Homo sapiens: one gene and its partner. The protein of the gene in region 1 interacts with the protein of each later gene in a pairwise test. Each region holds a gene or a part of one and is shown on either strand. Other genes may lie near its edges.

The links. Proteins that work in one complex are often made in the same cells at the same time.
Region 2: the proteins of GSE1 (region 1) and CEP63 interact in a two-hybrid assay, tested with the Homo sapiens proteins (2 studies listed by BioGRID and IntAct).

What each region holds. Positions count from the first base shown.
Region 1 is NC_000016.10:85,672,322-85,674,510, reverse strand, and holds part of GSE1 (genetic suppressor element 1), read right to left. Parts: intron 2,107-2,189; coding exon 1,972-2,106; 3' UTR 1-1,971.
Region 2 is NC_000003.12:134,545,057-134,548,765, forward strand, and holds part of CEP63 (centrosomal protein of 63 kDa), read left to right. Parts: intron 1-529; coding exon 530-763; intron 764-1,092; coding exon 1,093-1,232; intron 1,233-2,278; coding exon 2,279-2,416; intron 2,417-3,709. UniProt on the Homo sapiens protein: Required for normal spindle assembly.

The DNA of each region.
Region 1 (2,189 bases):
GTGAGATTTTGCCCTGATAGTTTGTAGCAGACTCCCTCTGAACACCTGTGGAACATGCTGACCTCCCAGTGTCTTTCGAGGGGAGGCCTGCAGCACAGCCCCTCGAGTTCTCTTCCAGCTGCTTCTGTGGAGAGGAAGGTGCTTGTTGACTGCTGATAATACTGGCGGTACATTCGTCTGAGTTTGCTAATAACTGGAAGATTCTTGGCAGACGTACAAAGCAAACTGTGCGGGGGCAGATAAAGCGACACGATGCCAGCTGCCAGCAAGCTGTTCTGCGCAGCAAGGGCTAGGGCCAAGGGCTCGGCTGCTGGTCACAGCAGTGAGCAGCCGGCACACAGGTCAGGCACCCTGCCCTCAGCTCAGGCCTCCACCCCCCAGACCAGTGACTGGCAGCCCTGGCCTCTGGTGAGGGCCCTTGGGAGCAAGAGAGGCCTTCTTGATCTAAACACTGCCTCCATAGGCAGTAACTAGGACAAGGAGGAAGACTCGCCCGTTGCTTTGCCTTGGTGTGATGAGCCCAGTTTCTGACCGTTCCTGTGCTTGTCACAGTAAGTTCAAAAAGGAGGGGTTCAGCTCAGACCTTGTGGCTTTTACAAAGCTTTGCGTTTAAACAAAGCCTCTGAAGTTCCTATTCTGTACCTGCTCTCAGACACCTTAGAATTATATCAATCACAGAAATCATTGACTTCCTGAAAGGTTTTTAAAAGCCCCCGCCCATGTGTGCACATGACTGTCACACATGGGTTCTACAGACTACCCCCTCCTCCCTTGATAGCAATGGGTAATATTTGCTATTAGCTTGTCCAGATGCTGGGGGCAGGCAGGGGGAGTGGAGGAGGTAAGCAGTAGCGCATGGCTTTCTACGGCAGCTTCTGGTGCAACTCAAACTAAAAATGAAGTGATCGCATAGGCGCCAGTGGTAAGCTCTTTTACTTTTCTTCTTCTTTAATTTTTAAAAACACTTCAATATTTTAATGTCCTGACCAGCAGCAGTACAAACACTAAAAGCAAGGTTTTTTTTTTTTTTTTGCCCAAAAAAAACCAAAACAACAAACAAAACCCCCAAACAGGAAAAACAAACAAAAATCCCCCAAACCACATATTAAAAATGGCAGGCTTTTTATAACAATAGTTAAAGTAATAAAAACATACAAAACTTTGTTTTTTTTTTAATATATATACACAGTACAAGGCTGAAGCACCTTTGACTTTTCTCTCAAAATTTACGTCTGTATGAAAACCCAACCCACTGTAGTAACAATCTGGTGGGTGTGAAGCTGTGTATACACAGAGCTCTGTACATGCTCCCCACGGAGTAATAAAAAGCTACCTTCAGTTTGTGAATTGGTTTTATCTTTAGGTAAGAAAGAGCTTTTCCAGGGAAAAGCCTTTGGGTTGCTTTGTGTGCTCCTAGGACTTGTTGCTTTGAAGAAAATTTTGCAGGAAAGTAAAATGAAACAAATAAGCCCTTTTTACTGACAATGCACCCAACCTTTTCAGCTGAAGCAAGTTTCACTCCTGGGGAGGAATGAGACTGGCCCCATCGCTGCGGCAAAAGCAAACTGGGCTTGAGGCATAGTAACATGGCAACACAAGAAAGAACAGAACCGGTTTGATCCACTCATATGCACAGGGGGCTGTTAATGATCAAGTTTTAGTGTTGCTAATGGAGCCTTCATGTTCAGATTAAGAAATAATGTGGGAGAGGAAGGGCGAAAACCACCTTTAAAAAGAAAAACTGTGGGCAATCCTACATTGGTTGCTCGCTGAATGACAACGGTGATTCAATTGCATTGACGTCAAGGTGAGTTCATTCATTTTTTCTGGAGCCTGGAATCCTTTGCTTCATGCATGGCACATTCTCATTTTGTAAGCTTCAAACCTCCCAGTGAAAAATATTAAATATTCAAGGTAATAAAATAGATAATATTTCTATACTATAGGTTCGGCCTAGTGCAAGGGAAACCGTCACCTGGGATATCCCTTCAGGTAGCCCCTAGGCCAGTGCATTGCAGGCAAGGCAAGGCACTTTCGTAAGTGGTCCAGTTCTGCCTGGAGCCGCTCCCTTTCTGAGACCATCTTCTGTTTCTGGCTCCTCAACTCCTGGAGAGAGGGAAATTTGTGTCAAAACCAACCCGTTTCCTCTGTAAGGACAAGCATGTAGAGTACAAACATGCTGGATGGAA
Region 2 (3,709 bases), on another chromosome or scaffold:
AATCTCGGCTCACTGCAACCTCCAACTCCCTGGTTCAAGTGATTCTCCTGCCTCAGCCTCCCGATCCCGAGTAGCTGGGATTACAGGCACGCGCCACCACGCCCAGCTAATTTTTGTATTTTTAGTAGAGACGGGTTTCACCATGTTGGCAAGGATGGTCTCAATCTCCTGACCTCATGATCCGCCCACCTCAGCCTCTCAAAGTGCGGGATTACAGGCGTGATCCACTGCACCCGGCCAATTTTTGTATTTTTTATAAAGACAGGGTTTCGCCATGTTTCCAGGCTGATCTCGAACTCCTGAGCTCAAGCGATCTGCCTGCCTCAGCCTCCCATAGTGTTAGGATTACAGGCGTGAGCCACCACTCCCAGCCTCTCAATTCTTTCTTACCCCTTCGCAATATATATATATATATTTTAGTGAGCCAATGCTTTATGTTTTTATGGAAATAATAGTTTCATTTTAGTCTTATTCATTGATTATTTTATCATTTCCCTTTTACCTATTGATTGATAGTCTGTGTTTCTAGGCTCAGCTTGTCAATCGGAAACAGAAATTAGAGTCTGTGGAACTTTCTAGCCAATCAGAAATTCAACACTTAAGCAGTAAACTGGAGCGGGCTAATGACACTATCTGTGCCAATGAGTTGGAAATAGAGCGCCTCACCATGAGGGTCAATGACTTGGTTGGAACCAGTATGACTGTCCTACAGGAGCAGCAGCAAAAAGAAGAAAAATTGAGGGAATCTGAAAAACTATTAGAGGTATGTTTTAAAATCACTATAATTGGGGGAAGTGTGTGTATGAGTATTTTAAGAGAGTGTTATTAAGCTAGAACTAGGTTCTACAATCCATACTTTCTTCCCTACTTTATAAATGATGGATCAGATATTGATAGTTTTACTAATATTGTGACTTTATTACAATATTTACAATATTGTAATATTGTTACGTAACTTATAGTCTGACTTCCTGGCTTCTCGTGAAATAGAAAAATTGTAATAATAGCTGGCTTAGAAATTTCTGAGTATTTTGCAGGTTCTGCAGGAATTAAAAAGAAGGAAAATTATAATCATATTTGACTTTTTTGCAGGCTCTGCAGGAAGAAAAGAGAGAATTGAAGGCAGCTCTTCAGTCTCAAGAAAATCTCATACATGAGGCCAGAATACAAAAGGAGAAGTTACAAGAAAAAGTAAAGGCAACTAACACTCAACATGCTGTAGAAGCTATAAGGTAAATTTAATCTTAAATATTATTCATCTTAGCCACTTAATGACTAGGTATTAAGCACTAGGCTTATTTTTATTTTTATTTTTATTTTATTTTCAGATAGTCTCCTGTTGCCCAGACTGGAGTGCAGTGGTGCAATCTCAGCTCACTGCAACCTCAACCTCCGAGGTTCAAGCCATTCTCCAGGCTCAGCCTCCCAAGTAGCTGGGACTACAGGTGCATGCTACCACACCTGGCTAGTTTTTTGTATTTTTAGAGACGGGCATTCATCATGTTGGCTAGGCCGGTCTTAAATTCCTAACCTCAGGTGATCTGCCCACCTCAGCCTCCCAAAGTGCTGGGATTACAGGTGTGAGCTGCCACGCCCATCCAAGCACTAGTTTTCATATTGCATATTCATAATTTTATGTTTGATCATATTGTGGATTTTCTTAATTGGCTTTAACTTCTGAGTTAGGTTTTTAAAGTGTTATAAAATTTTGTGTGGTTAATTTTCTTCTGCCACCAGTTAGGGTCCCTAACAGAGACTCTCATGTTTAGAAAGTTAGAAACCAAGGTCAGTTTGCATGCTTGGTGAAAATCCAAATGTGCAGGGAATTGTCATCCATGTCTCCTGGAGGCCTCACTTTGTTGGTGGAATAAGTTGTGATTAGTAGCTGCTTATCATTAATAGCAGCCAGCCATTGGGCTAGCCCTCTTGCTTGATTTAAGTCTGATGCACACTTTTATTTTTGCCAGAATTCTCCTGTAACTTTTCAGTTTTTTTGGTACAGGGTTTCAAGTGTCACTGAAGTGATTTTGCCATTTTGTCTTTTTCCCTTGAAAAAAGGCCAAATCCCAGTTAAGAAGGGAGTAAATTGCTACTTTTTGAAGTATCAGCATCTCTTGACTCTTTCTTTCCTCTCCCAATATTCTTTTTATAAAGCAGGAGACAAACTTGAAGAGTTCCAAAGAGGTTACCAAAAATGATGGGGAAACACAGACTAGATGAGCATTATTTTTGTTTGCAGAGATAAAGGCGTTAACAATCATCCTATGTCTTTCCATAGGCCACGGGAAGAATCTCTGGCAGAAAAGAAGTACACCTCTCAAGGGCAGGGGGACTTAGACAGTGTGCTCTCCCAGTTGAATTTTACCCATACTAGTGAGGACCTTCTGCAGGCAGAGGTGACTTGTCTTGAAGGCAGGTACATAATTATACACACATTTCAAAAATTTCAAGTTGTTAAAATGAATTTTTGATCATCATATTGTAAATGAATGTAATAGTCATAGTAAAAAAAATAAGATTTTTTTCTAGTATCCACAAATGGCCTAAGTTCTTATTTCTTTTTTTTTTTTTTTGAGACGGAGTCCGCTCTGTCACCCAGACTGGAGTGCAATGGCACAATCTCAGCTCACTGCAACCTCCGCCTCCCGGTTCAATTGATTCTTCTGCCCCAGCCTCCTGAGTAGCTGAGATTACAGGCGTGCACCACCATGCCTGGCTAATTTTTATATTTTTGTAGAGACGGTGTTTCACCATGTTGGCCAGGCTGGTCTTGAACTCCTGACCTCAGGTGATCCACCTGCCTTGGCCTCCCAAAGTGCTGGGATTACAGGCATGAGTCACCGCACCCTGCCCTAAGTTCTTATTTCATTGAGAAGACAGAAGCAATTAAAGGAGAACCTCTTAATCTTTCTGTCATCAAATCTACCAGTCTGCCCATACCTGTGCCTTTCTGCACTTCTAAGACCAACCACTCCACTTGTGTCCTTTTTCTGTAGTTATATCCTTTCTCTTCTGCATCATCAAGTTCTTTCTGTCTGCTGAATCTATCCACTGGTATAAAATACGCTGTAACATCACCCATCTGGGGGAAAAACCATCCCTTAATCCTATGTCTCCGTCAAGTTATTTCCACATTTCTGTACTTCTCTTTAAGACCAAATTCTTCAAAAGAGTTGTCTATACTGACTCTACTTCTTTACCTTTCACCTGTTTAGCAGCCCTTCACTTAGGTTTTCCTCCTTGCCACCTCAGAAGCAGGGTAGGAAGGGGTAACAGTTGACACATGGTGATCCTTTTTGTTCTGCTGTGGTGTTGTTACTTCCTTGGGTGTTAATTGAATCCTGACTAATGCTATACCATACCCACCTAAACACTTGTCATTGTCGTACTTATAGAATTTTTTTTGGTTTTTCATAACCTCTCAACTTTTTGATTGGGAAGAGTGTGATATCTTGTTTTAAACACATGAATCATGATCATTTGTACACTGACATTTTCTGTATGTAAAAGATAAAATTGCTTTTAACATGAACTGTTAACCTTTAGGCAAACAACAAGAGAAATATCATTTTACACTTTTTAGGTTATCTTTAAGTAATACATTTTTTGTTTTTACATTTATTTCTGGTTTTGGAAACCAGTAAGTATTTTCTTACTTTTATCTACATGTTAAATACACAAACATGCATACACACACATATTTTCTGCT